Homo sapiens: one gene and its partner. Each later gene encodes a partner of the first gene's protein in a complex. Links are inferred from orthologs where the notes say so. Each region holds a gene or a part of one and is shown on either strand. Other genes may lie near its edges.

Region 1 (7,040 bases):
CACACATGCATGTATATTTTTGTTTAGTATGGAGCTAATTTTTTTAAAAAGAGTGCATTTACTGTATACTGAAAAATAGATCATAGCCATATATTATTGACAAACCAAAAATCTGACAGTGGACAGAAAACACAGACTCTTGGAATGATGTCATCCATAATCCAATCTTTTCATCATGCAGACAAGACGCTCAGGACAGAGTGACTAAGTAAATGGCACAGGGAGCCCAGAACAGGAAGCCACAGGGCCACTGGCTCATATCTTTCCATCCTGCCATGTGTTGTCTCCAATGTAGAATAATCCTTCTGAGGAAAATATGGCCCAGGTATGACATAAATGTATTTGCATAAAGTCTACAGTGGGGTGCTGGTCTGTGCCTTGTACCCTATGGAGGGTGTGGGTGTGTCTGGCTCAGGTGAATGGCAGGTTTGCTGGAGAGGATGAGTATACTATACCTGAGTAACCCACACATAGTGACTAAGGAAGATTAGCTCCAAGGTCAACACTGCTTGCCTTTCTCCCTGCACTCCTTCACACCACTGTGTGCTTGTTAGGGCCTCATTACTGACTTTACCATGTGCTTTAACCTCCACTTGGAGATTGTCCTTTTCCCATCTGTGAAGAAAAGGAAAATAGCATTTCCCAGATGCTCTCAAAGGAATGCATAGAGTTTTAAAAAGGTATAGAATTTCTTAAAACCAAATGGATTAATATAAAATGTCACCACCAACACGTGCCAAGTACATATTAATACCAAATGTCACCACTATCATGTGCAAAGCATATCCCTGTGCCCACTAGAGGCGACACAAGAGATCTCCGAATCAATAGTGTGAATGACAATCACTCCCTTTCCAGTCCTATGTGCTCTGGAGCAAGGACCGTTCTAAAACTGAGGCTCAGAGAGGGTAAGTAATTTGCCCAGAAGACACACGGCTAGTGATTGTGTGAGCTGGGATTGGAACCCAGGCTGTCTAATGTCCAAGTCTGTGTAGACATAGCACTTGATCGGGCTGGAGGGGAAGGCTAGGCCTTAGAGATTTTTTTTTTCAGTTCAGTAGCCCCCAATCCTGGCTGCCCATTAGAGTAACTTGGGAACTTTTTTTACAATTGCAATTCCCAGGCTCCACAAAAACCAATGAAACAAAACCCCCAGGAGGAGGCTGAGCCTCAGCATATTTATAAAGAAGGCTCCTCTGCTGTCTCTGATCCACAGCCGGGAGAGAGGACTTCTCTATTCTTCTCCTACCCACTTTACAGGTGAGAAAACTGAGCCCTGAAGTTTGCTGACTTGCCCAAAGTTGCACCATCAGTGCCAGGGCAAAGGCCTAGGACTGTCACTTCTACTACTCTTCTCTGCACCCAAAATTGCCATTTCTCAAAACAGTAAGGTTATAACCAGGAATCACTACATTCCACAAGGTGCTCATGTGTCCTAAAAACATTACTTCATTTTAACCATTTCACAACCTACACACAAATAAGTGCACAAAGAAAACCACCCCGAGGGGCAGATGGCTCTGACAGTGCTTCTCCCAAGACAGGGTGAGACGGCCTCACTCTCCAGTTTTGGATACGTCTGCAATGCTCGAGGTTTGTATCATTTCTGTAGTTAAGAAAATCAATTTCTAAAAAACAGATCTGAAATGAATGTCAGCCCTCCCAGTATGTTTTTCTCTAAAGAAACCTTTTGAACTATAAACCAGGAAGTACTTCATACAACCCTGTGACTTGCCCTGACTGGATAAGCTTCCAAAGCTGACGTCATTCCTGTTTCAACGACTTGCAGGGATCATTTCAGAAATGAAAACAAATGCTTTGCACTTTTAGGAAATGGGTGGAAAAATGGATGTTTATATGATTCCTGAAGAAGCCTGAATGGGCACAGCCCCATTAACACTTGGCTCTCTGGAAACCTGGCTGTTCTCCTTACAGCCTCGTCTGGTCACCAGCTCCGCCAACCAAGGCTGCAATGAGGTCTTCAGCTAATAAAACTTACCTAAAACACACAACATGCAGCCAGCCACCAGCTGCACTGGATCTTGATGAATAATTTAGAAACAAATTACCCTGTTCCAAATGAATCCAATAAAGCTAGACTCATTGCAAGCACCCACTGAGCCTCCCTCTCCAGCAGCCATGCCTCCAGCTACCATCGTTAAGGCACTAGTTCTGGACTAAGAAGAATTCAGTGAATTTAACCTGACCAAGGGAAATTAAGTGCTCTCTTTCCCTTCCACTACAAAAGAAAACATTTGCAAGCAAGCCAGTCTCTAAAATCTATCTCTCTAAGGTACCATCAATCAGGCCAGAGCTCCTGCTGCATCGTTACCTCGTTAAGATATATGCTTTAACCAGTCCATTTTATTCCATTTGGTGCTAATGGATTTTTTTAAAATCTTCTCTTTCAAAGTTTGGACCATACTTTATCATATTTAAGTAGACTAACTTATGATATTTAAGGTTGGTTCTCTGGAGAAATGACTGATTCCAGGTGGAGACAGGGAAGTGCAAAGTGAGACTGGAACACCTTACTGGTCCAGGTGCTCAAAAACTAATAGGGGGATGTCGGAAGGACACCAGCACCAGCTTGGAGGGACACCAACTGACCAAGTCTGGAGCAATCTGGGTGTCAAAACGAAAAATGACAGGAATAGATTAGAATGTATTGGACAAAATTGAGTCCCTACTAAAACTGTGAGGAAAAAAAAAGAAAAGGAAGAAAGGGGAGGGAAGTCTTTTGTTTAACAAAAGAAAGCCAATTAAGAGATATGGAAAGAATAATGGAAGCAGGAAATCACTCTTTACAATCACCATAGAAGTAATTGATTCAGGCAATGATTTATCAATGAATGTAAAAGTTAGTAGGTAAAAAAAGAACAAAATCATCTCCTTTGCAAGGACGTGGATGGAGCTGGAGGTCATTATCCTTAGCAAACTAATGTAGGAACAGAAAACCAAATACCGCATGTTCTCACTTATAAGTGGGAGCTGAATGATGAGAACACAAGGATACATAGAGGGGAACAACACACACTGGGGTCTATCTGAGGGTGGAGGGTGGGAGGAGGGAGAGAAGCAGGAAAAATAACTAATGGGTACTAGGCTTAGTACATAGGTCATAAAATAATTTGTACAACAATCCCCTGTGACATGAGTTTGCCTATACAACAAACCAGTATGTGTAACCCTGAACCTAAAATAAAAGTTTTTTTAAAAAATTGTATTAGGTGAAAGGTTGTGGGTAAACAGGATATTCCCACAATATCTATTGGCTACATATTAATTATAAAGTCAAAAAAGGTACTTTTATGTTGGATAAATTCAGGGTATGCCACCTTCACCAAACGGTCAAACTTACGCCAATGAAAATTGTCATCCTGTGACCACATTACATTACCTATATCTTGCCAAAAATATGTAACCTAAGTCAAAGTATGATGAAAAATTTTAGACAAATCCAAATTGATCCAAATTGATCCAAACTGACCCAAATTGAGAGGCATCTTGCAAAAATAACCTGTACCGTTCAAAAGTGTTTATCTCAGAAAAGACCATAAAAAATGGGACAACACCAAGTAAAGATGAAGGCAGAGAGGAGGGTGATGTTTCTACAAGCTAAGGAAGATGGCCAGCAACCACAAGGAACAAGGGGAGAGGTAAGGAACAGAGGCTCCCTCCCAGCCCTCAGGAGGAACCAGCCCTGATGACACTTCCAACCTCCAGGACTGTGAGAAAATCCATTTCTGTTGTTTAAGCCACCAAGCCTGTGGTCCTCCGTTACGGCAGCCATGGGACCTCTTATACCCTCCAAGTGGCTGCTCACACGGTGGGCAGAGTTGCCAGGTGAGCAGTTTCTGGAGACAGACTGCCTGTCATTTACTCACTCTACAGGTGAGTACAGGTTGCCCTGTCATTTACTCACTCTACAGACGTGTGCACAATCCCAACAGCACTGTCCCGGTCACCTTGCCTTTACAATAGGAATAACAGCAACACTCATACGGCTGTAGGGCCGGTTAATTCTGTGAATACCTGAGAAGTGCTCAGAATAGTGCCTGATAACTTGGTAAGAGCTATAGGGTGCTGTTTATTATCGTTACCATCATTATTTGGCTTTGGCTATGGCTTTGTTCTGAACTTTGGAAGATCTCAGGTAAAGGTGTTTTCATGGTGGGAAAAGCTTTAGACACGAAAAGAAAAGCTCTTCTCAGCTTCTAGGCCCAGCTCTGCCACTTTGGCTGTGTGACCCGGATGAAAGCACAGACTTTCTCCGGGCCTCACTTCCTTTTTTGTAAAATGTTAAGTTAAAGTCAATCTCCAGCATCCCGGGCCCACCCTGTCCAGGCTGACTCAAAGCTCACAGGCGCTATGGGCCCCTTCAAGGAATGTGGTTAGAGTGTCTGGTACACCAAAAACCCCACAGGAGATTCTTTAGGGGGATCTAAACTTTAAAGTTCTGTCATTTAGTCAAGTTAAACTATATACATATAGACTTGACACTTTCAAACACATTGTAGATTTGGTGGGGAAGAAAATGAAGCATTATAATTCCACTAAGATTGGAAGAAATCCAGGGAGACCTGAACACCCTCCTCCAGTATGAAGACCTGCTTCATACTGGCTCAGGGGGTGGGATCAAACTGAAACAGTGGTAGGTAAAAGCTAGAAACACAAATGTTTAATTCAAGCATTTGTCTCCAAACTTGATGCTCTTTGATGATAAATAATTGGCAAGATTCTAAATGGTTTTCAAATGTAATAGGAGAAAAAAAACTTTAAGATGGAATTTAAAAAGCAGACGAGGGTATAAGATTATTAAGCTGACAGCAGATGTGATTGGCCTTATCATCCCCACCCAAAATCAAGGTCGCCATATGATTTTTCCAGGCATCGTGGATGAAGGAGCATTCTACGTAATATTGAAGCATGAAATAATCATTCATTTCATATAAAGCAGAATGTCTTCACTTACCTTGGGGACACCGAATCACAGTGAGATTTACAGTTGCAGACTTGCGGGCCTTCAGGCTCTTCCAGGTAGCCACGCAAGTCAAAGTCCCATTGCTCTGTGGGGTCAGAGCCAGGATGCTCACTGCACTTTGAAGGTCGCTGGGCTCCGGAACAAAATAATAGCTTGAATGGCTGACCAGGAGACCGAGCTCCCAGGAAATATCCGGGAGCCGGGTCCAGTGTGAGGGTAGACAAGTAACTTCACAAGGTTCATTCTCAGCGACTACAAGATTAACACTGGGAATGAACAGCTCTCCCATAACTAAAGAAGAAAAGAGAGAAACACATTGAAGACATGACCATGCCTCTCGCTTCTAAGTTTTCTTTTTTTTTTTCTTTTTTTTTTTAAGTTTTGCTTCAAATTACATTTTGTGAGACCTATTTTCCCAAGCCCAAAGAGGCTGTGTCTCTACTAGGAAATCTTAACTCAGATTTTATCTGGGTCTTTTTTGTACACCTGCCAGAGTCTCTGAAGAAGGTGAGGTTGCTCACAAGAAAGCAAAGTTACATAGAAAATGCTTCATAAAAGTCAGAAACCAGGGGGAAATAATTATGTGGGAAAGAAAAGTGCATGCCATAGGGGGGTTATACAATCCCTGAAGTGAGCTACAGAATTATCTTGGGCTGTCGAGGGAGCAAAGGGAAAAAGAGAAACGAGCTTCACCTTCTTCTCACTGTGACGAGGACACAGCCCAGGGTCAGACGCAAGTCTCCCCTGGAGTTTTGGTCAATCAGATACATTTTTATTTATTTCTAGGGTCATATGGTCTTAAACATAACTTCCTAGGGTATTGCCTTAACATAGGTTTCTCATTACAAATTAAATCGAATTCCAATCTAATATTTACAGAAATAACTAACCCAAATCATGTGCCAGAATAACTTAGATAAGTTATTTTTTTATTAAGAACACTCTCGCATAGGTCAGCATTCATACTGCAAACAACCCATATGAAAATAGTACTTGTTTTCACAAGTGTGACTAAAACAACCTGAGGATTGGCCCCAGTAAAGACACAGCCTTAGTGAAATGTGTATACATATATGTCCAAGAAAAACATGCTGAAACTCTGGACTACACAACATAATGGAAAGAATACTGAACTAAGAAATGAAAAAATTTGTTCCCAATCTTGGTTCTGCCAGAAAATTGTCATCACTTTGGGCAAGTCACTGAATTTTTTTGGCTCTCTTTGTTGTACTTACTGAATGAGATAGTTTGACCAGATCAGCACTTCTCAAACACTTTGGTCTCAGTACCTTTTACACTCTTCAAAAGCATTGAGGACTCCAAAGACCTTTCATTTGTGTGGGTTTTATCTACCAATATTTATCATATTTGAAATTAAAGTTAAACAATTATTTTAAACATATATTTTAAAATAATAATTTATTACATGTTAATTTTGATTAACATATTTTCATGGAAACGAATCACATTTTTAAACTAAAAAAATTAATAAGATGAGTGACATTGTTTTATACTTATATAAATCTCTGTAATGTCTGGCTGGATTCTCATAGCTGTCTCTTCATTCAGTCTGTTGCAATATACTGCTTTGTTTGAAGGATGTAAAGAAAACCTGACTTCATACAGATATGTAGTTGGAACAGTGAGGAGTATTTAATAGCTTTTTCAGATAATTGTGGATATTCTTGAATACTGTACCAAAACTTACTTTTCTCTTTTTTTTTTTTTTTTTTTTTTTTGAGACAGACTTTCACTCTTGTTGCCCAGGCTGGAGTGCAATGGTGCCATGTTGGCTCACGGCAACCTCCGCCTCCCAAGTTCAAGCTATTCTCCTGCCTCAGCCTCCCGAGTAGCTGGGATTACAGGCATAAGCCACCGCGCCCAGCACTTTTTTTAAGAGATGGAATTTCACCATGCTGCCCAGGCTGGTCTCAAACTCCTGGGCTCAAGTGAGCTGCCCGCCTGGGCCTCCCAAAATGCTGGGATTACAGGCATGAGCCACCATTCCCGGCTGAGGTTTCTTAAATGTTTGTTACACAGTGGAATCTGAAACTCT
Region 2 (7,040 bases), on another chromosome or scaffold:
GGGTGATTTATAAAGAAAAAGAGGTTTAATGGACTCACAGTTCCATATGACTGAGGAAGCCTCACAATCATGGCGGAAGGTGAAGGAGGAGCAAAAACATGTCTAACATGGTGGCAGGCGAGAGAACATGTGCAGGGGAACCGCCCTTTATAAAACCAACATATCTCATGAGACTTACTCACTATCGCAAGAATAGCATGGGAAAAACCCGCCCCCATGATTCAATTACCTCCCCTTGCGTCCCTCCCACAACATGTGGGGATTATGGAAGCTACAATACAAGATGAGATTTGGGTGGGGACGCAGCCAAACCATATCACGCATCTTGTTTTTGATTGAGGAAATTGCCATGTTTGATCATTTCTCTTAACTAAGTGATGATCTTAAACAATTTCTAAATAACTTTAGCTTACTGATCTTGTCTTTATTTGAATACATTTTGATCTTTTGTTCATCATGGATTGTTTGCATTCATTTTGCATTTTTTTAAATATTGCATTCACATTAGGATTACTGAATTTTTCTGCACCTTAAATTTTGCACCTGAAGGTGAGTGTCTCACTTGCCTCACCTTAATTATGACCTTGTCACTGTTAATTTTAGAAACCTAAGAATATCAAAACTGTGGTTTGGATGCAGCTCTGCTACCAACTACTTTTTTGGATCTTGATATTTTCCTTTTACCTGACCTGGTGGCCAGCCAGCTACAATGACAAAACAGTAGAATTACAAACTCTTCCCAGGTGTGCCACTAAACTTCACCCAAGGTCAGAATTGATTGTTGCTTCAGCTGATTGTTACACTTGACAGAGACACACAGGTGAACAGTTTGCTGAAGGGTTCACAAGGCAAGAGGAATGACTCGCTTCAAAGAAGCAAAGAATGTAACCTAGGGCCAGGTCTCACAAAAGATCACAAAACGACCGGATCCTGTAAGAGCTTTGTTTCATGAGTACATAAGCGAGCCCAGTCAAGTAATAAAGAGTTCTCTCCAGCAAGGACACCACATGGAATGTGACATTTTACAAACAGTGTGAGGCTCTGCCCTACTGTATTCATGTTTGCTTTGAATTTTTGCACATTTAAAAGTTATTCAAAATATTTTACTCCCTTCAGCCAACCTCTTGTTTTACAGCATGTTTCAAACACACAAGGGCTAACTCTATATCAGATTATTTCTGAGGTTACTTTTAGCTTCAAGAAAATGAGCTTAAGATTTTTTGTTTTTTTGTTTTTTTTTTAATTGTTGATGATGCTTTAAAATTTGGATTAAGCTCCATGTGGCAGAATGGTTGCTTAGTTTCAAACTGGTCACTGGGGTGACAGCTCAGTGCAAAAATCACCATCACAGTCAGAAACACCATCCTGGACCACGAACAGCAGAAATATACCCACAGAGGAACCAAACAGACCAGCGCCTGCCACTTCTTCAAATGGTGGCCTCATCTCTCTTTCTAAAATAATTCACCCAGCAGGCATGTCTGCCTAACTACTGCCCTGGCCCTAGCTGTAACTCCTAAATCAGGTTACTGGGGGGAAAATAATTGCCAAAGTTAGGGCAAAGTCTATCTTTCTGTATTAAACAAAGTAAATGTACAATTACATTTTAAATTTTAGATAAATTTAGTAAGACTTGACAGGATCGATAATGTGCCATCAAACTCTTATGGCAATTTTATAAAGGCCAATTGTAAATGAACATACACAGAGGATGGGCAGTGTTCTGTGGGCTATTCCTTAGCTTACAGACTCTCATGTAATAGGGAAGAATTAGGAGCATTAATGACCTGGATAAAAATAGTCACACATGGAATAAAATTATCTTCAAACTAAGAACCTGGGTTGGAAGTTTGGGGTGATGTGTCTGTGTGTGCATGATGGGGGGCAAATACACTGCAGAGGAAAGAGTGGGGAGGCAGGTGCTTACAGGCTGCCGCCAAGGTCGTGGTTAGCTCTGCTTCTGCTTAATTTCTAAATCAATGATCTCGAAGAGGGACTAAGCCACTCATTAATGAATCTGTGAATGACATTAGCCTGTATAGTATTGCAAACACCCAAAAATACAGAAAAAAAAAACCCTTTTAAATGGTCTTTAAAGAGGTCAGAAACATGTCAAGAAATTACAGGAGAATTGAACTAAAGGGAGACCATGTAATACATCTGGAGTCAATAAAGGAGGACATAGATGTTCAGAATGTGGGAAAAACAAGGGAAGTGGTTAAGCGAAAAGAGTCCCAAGTGGCTAGACAATTAGACGCAAGTTTTAGAAGTCAGGGAATGCCTTTCATAAGCAGGTTAGAGAAGAGTGTTCCTTCTCTTGACGAGATTTTACCACCTTTCCCCTGGGGTGCCATACTTGGGTTTGTTTGTAAAAACTCTGTAACAGAAAAGATGTCCTTCCATTTCCTAGTCCATAAACATGATGAAATAGAACTGACCCCCTGCAAACAACAACAACAACAACAACAACAACAACAACAACAACAACGACAAATGAAGGCAGAGTATTTTTGCATTGATTCGGAGCTCTGTTCATGCTAGGAGTCACCAAGGATCCCGGGAAGAGCTGATATCAGAGGGGTATGGAAAAGAAGCAAACTGACATTCTTTCATCCAAAGCTGAAAAACAATTTCAAAAAGTGTTTATGTGTGTATGGTTTTTTTTCTGTTGTTGTTGTTTTTTTTAAAACAGATAACCAAGTTTTACAGAGGGAAGGACAAGATGAGGAAAGATATTTGAATTCTCAACATTTTCCGGCTGTGTTTCAATTCTACAGGGGTCATGGCTTTGCCTAATCCATGCCTGGGATTGGCCTTAAACTCTGTGGGAGTTCCTGTAGGGAATTCCATTTCATCTCCAATACATTTAAGTCTAATTATGAAAACAGAGTTTATCCACAGGAAAAAAAATGTAAAAACACTGCAAGAGAATACATAATACATGGCAATGTGTATAATGCCCCAAGACAGGAGCCATGGACAAGCTTTGGAGGAGAGACAATAGAGAGTGCATGTGGCCCAGAACAATCAAGGAAAGTTAATGGGATAGACGGTCCTTGGGAAGGATCACGAATGATAAATGCGATCTGGACAAGTGGGAAGTAATCCAGGTGAGAAGAACCTGAGCAAATGTGTCAATCAAGGAAGAGTAGTGATCTCTTGATGTGACCCATATGACGACCTCTATGTGAGGTTTTAAAATGATTTATTTAGAAGTCATAGGATTTTGATCGGTTAAGGAACTTAGATTTTCACCAAGTAGAAAAATCCTCTTTTCAAGATCCCTACAGCACCTACCAGCTTCTATCTGAAACACTTCCACTGATGGAGAACTGGTCAGTTTTTCAAATAGCTAGTGCTTCCCACGTTACTTTGACCTTTGGCCTTGTTCTGCCTTTCAGTGTAACGTATATCACATTTGCTTACTCAAAACATGACACACACATCCCCAAATTAAAGACAGCATTGGGTGGTTCCTCCCTTGTTTTTATCTTTGTCTTTGGTTCTTCCAATTGTCTTCCTGGGTAGTCCAGATGGTGGTAAAAGATCTACCCAGGATGCCTTCTAGTTTGTTAAGGTCCCTTTGAAAACCCGTACCTGGAAGTGAAGTTATCCTGTTTTGGTTTGGAGGACTCAGGATTCAGTGGAGTGATCACTTCCTTAACCAGGATACTATGTGTTTACTAATGCAATCTATGATGGTTTTTACTGTTTTGTCTTATTAGATATCTCACACTGTTGACTGGAAGAACTCAGTAGGCCTTTAGAGTACAAAACACTTACTACTGTGGCATGAACATAGAAATAAATGAAGGTAGTGATGATGGCTGCCAATTCTGACTCTCCTTGCCTGTACTTTGCTCAGTATTTCAGCCTCCAAGTGGACAAGAAATCTCTCCATAAGTAGTTGGAAGAGCTTGTGTATATGGTTGTCAGCTGGGGATACAGTGGGTAGAATGAGGGTCCCTGCAAAAGATATATCCATGTCTTAACCCCAGAACCTGTGACTATGACCTTACAGGAAAACGATCTAAGAAGGTGTCATGAGGTTTAGGATCTTGAGATGAGATCATTCTGGATTATCTGAGTGGGTCCTAAATTCAATGACAGATGTCCTTAGACACTTATAAGACAGGAGGAGAAGACACAAACGCAGAGGAGAAGGTGATGTGAGGAGAGAGGCAGAGATTGGAATTATGCACCCACAAGCTAAGGAATGTCTAGAGCTACTAGAAACTGAAAGAGACCAGAGAAGACCCTCTCCTGGAGCCTTCAGAGGAGTGTGGCCCTGCTGTTACCTTTATTTCAAACTTCCAGCCTCCAGAACTGTGAGACAATAAATGGGAGTTGTTTTAAGCCACCAAGTTTATGGGTATTTGTTATGGCAGCCCTAGAAATACAGGGGTTACATATTTCCAGGGGTATTCCTGCAGGAATGGGGTGAATGCTCCCAACGATCCTTTCCAACACTTCTCTATAGGGCTTAGAAATAGGGAAAAATATTTGGAGACAGCAGCCACATAGATTGCTACATATTTAGCAACTCTACCCTATTAGAAAATGTATTAATTTCCCTTTAATTCATTAATAAGTTAGAATACAGATGCTTTCAGAGATGACTGTTAGACTAAATTTGCAAAGGGCCTCAAGGGAAAAAAAAAAGGCCACAGATAGAATGGCTGAGTGTGTGTATGTTGTGGAAGATGTAATATAAGTCAGACAATCATATTTAATGAGGAGTCTGAAAACACATGGTGACTCATGTATTCATGCGAGTATGCAGGAGCCTAAACATGCTGCGCTCTATTCAGAAAAGGCCACGTGACTGTCAAAAGCAGTCATAAGCAAGTTATGCAAATCATCTCAGCAGATAGCAATGACATATTTAGACCTCCCCATCATGCATGTGCTATTGTGCCAAGAAGCTATTAAAGAAAATTCTTGGAGAGTTTCGACTCTGCTGCTGGTGAAGTCTTTTGTGTGCCTGTGACAAATGCGTCAAACACAAGAAGCAAATAAGAGTCACTTGAAAAAAATCATGGAGTCTAAGTCCACATATTCTAAGTCACAAATTAGTGATGTTACCAAAAATGTCCCCGGTTAATTGGGATAGAACTTGCTCCCACTGTTAGAAGTGTACTAGTCAGCCTACCATGCCAAGGAACTTGGCTTTCTAGAGCAGAGAGAAGTTCTTTCAGATGGATAGGTGAAGAAGGGCAAAGGCAAAGAGAACAAGAGTAAACAGATGATTGTAAAAACTGCAAATCTCAAATTGGTGGATCATCTTGTCTACCTTCTACCTGAGGCAGAAATTCTTTTTAGAATATAAAATAAAAAATAATGATTATTACTATTTAATGAGCAGTTTGCAATATGCAAGATACTGTGCTGGGTATTCAACATGTTTTTTCATTTAATCTAAAATAATCCTATGAGATCATTAAGGTAATCTTCACTTTACAGATGAGTGTATGTGCAGCTGAAAAACACAAATCCTCTTTGTCATTCATTTATTAATTCATTCACTCATCCAGCAAACATACACCATGCACTAAATATGCCAAAAAAAATGATCACCTTCAGTGACAAGAAACTCAGTATCCCAAAAGGCAACCTACTACATTTTCGGACAACTCTAATTCATAGAAAGTTCTTCCTCTTACTGATCTGAAGTGTGTATCTGTGTAACTAACCAAATAGGTCACTGTGGTGTCCTCATGTCACACAGAACAAAATGGAGGAAAGGGTAAACACAGAAAGTTTACGGGAGACAACAAACGTTTTCTGTTCCTGATTTCAGCTCAGTGTAGTTTTCCACATTTTATGGTTTTTTTATGGTTTTCATGTCAACCCTATTCTTTGGGGATAGTTAATGATTAAATCATATTAACCCAGGAACAGTGACACAGTCTTCCTTCCAAACAGTTTTGAAAAGCCTTTGATACTTTGGAGGCATTGTCAGAGGACAATAAATTTGCCAACCACATAAAAGAGAGTCTATGTAATGTCAGTACATAAATATTAGGAATAGTTGTATGCTACTGGGAAGTCCATGAATACTGAGGCAATGAGGAGGACACACTTTAGAGCATCTCTTATGTGTCCTCGCCTTGCCAGCATCTTACAGACGGCATTTCGAGTAGTCAAGATCGTATCCTGGTCAAGAGAGTGAAAGGAAAAAAAAAGTAGTCAAGATCCCACCAGACCCTATTTTCTCCACTTTAAGTGAGGAATTCAAATATAGAAAGGAAGTCTTAGCCAAGGTCTTGGAGACAAGGAGACAGTGACAGGTGAAGCCAGGAAATCACCGCTCCAGGAAGACCCGCTGTTTACTCACATCACAGAAGCCCACTCCCCACAGGTTTATGAAAGACCAGGCATTTCCACTGGCAGCCACTCTACCCTGGAACTCCAAGAGAAACAACACAATCTTTGTTAACAGGTTTTCCTCCTCTGCCTTTGGGAGCCTTTTGGGAAATCTTTTTTTGCTCAGTCTTTGGCCCTCAACGTACTACCGTTTCCATCATTATTACATCCAGATAGTAGCATGACCTAAGATGTCTAACTGTAAGCAATATAAAAATGTTTAAAATAATATAACAATAGTTAACACTCACTGAACATTTAAAATATGCCAGGCACTTTCCATGTAATTATTTCAATTATTCCTCCCAACAGCTCTGAGTCTGGGAAGTATTTCATTTCCCAGCTGATGAAACCAAAGCAAAGAAATATTAAGGAACTTATTTAGGCTAGCAACTACATGGTAGAACTGGGTCTGATACACAGACCTGTCTGATACTATCAACTATGCCTTCCTTTCAATATTTACAAGTAACACTGTGGCAGGTACCATTCCAAGCACTTTACACATTTCAACCCATTTCATCTTCATGATAACCCTATTACACAGCTGATGAGAGCAGCTTAAAGAATCTGTCCCAGGTCACACAGGTAGCACATGGTAGATCTGGGTTTCAAAAACCCAGGTAGGCAGCCTGATGCCAGAGACCAGACCACTATTCTAAAGCAGTAGCATT

The links. Proteins that work in one complex are often made in the same cells at the same time.
Region 2: the proteins of IGSF5 (region 1) and LNX1 are in contact, whole or in part, in a crystal structure (PDB 3VQG), measured with the Mus musculus proteins. The link is inferred for Homo sapiens from one-to-one orthologs. Residues at the interface, in NP_001171358.1 of Mus musculus: Val367, Thr368, Leu369, Val370; in NP_001153049.1 of Mus musculus: Gln396, Leu397, Gly398, Ile399, Lys400, Leu401, Val402, Phe413, Leu416, Pro446, Ala449, Ala450, Ile453.

The regions. Positions count from the first base shown.
Region 1 is NC_000021.9:39,769,151-39,776,190, reverse strand, and holds part of IGSF5 (immunoglobulin superfamily member 5), read right to left. Parts: intron 5,276-7,040; coding exon 4,976-5,275; intron 1-4,975. UniProt on the Homo sapiens protein: Provides, together with MAGI1, an adhesion machinery at tight junctions, which may regulate the permeability of kidney glomerulus and small intestinal epithelial cells. Mediates calcium-independent homophilic cell adhesion.
Region 2 is NC_000004.12:53,581,487-53,588,526, forward strand, and holds part of LNX1 (E3 ubiquitin-protein ligase LNX), read right to left. Parts: intron 1-7,040.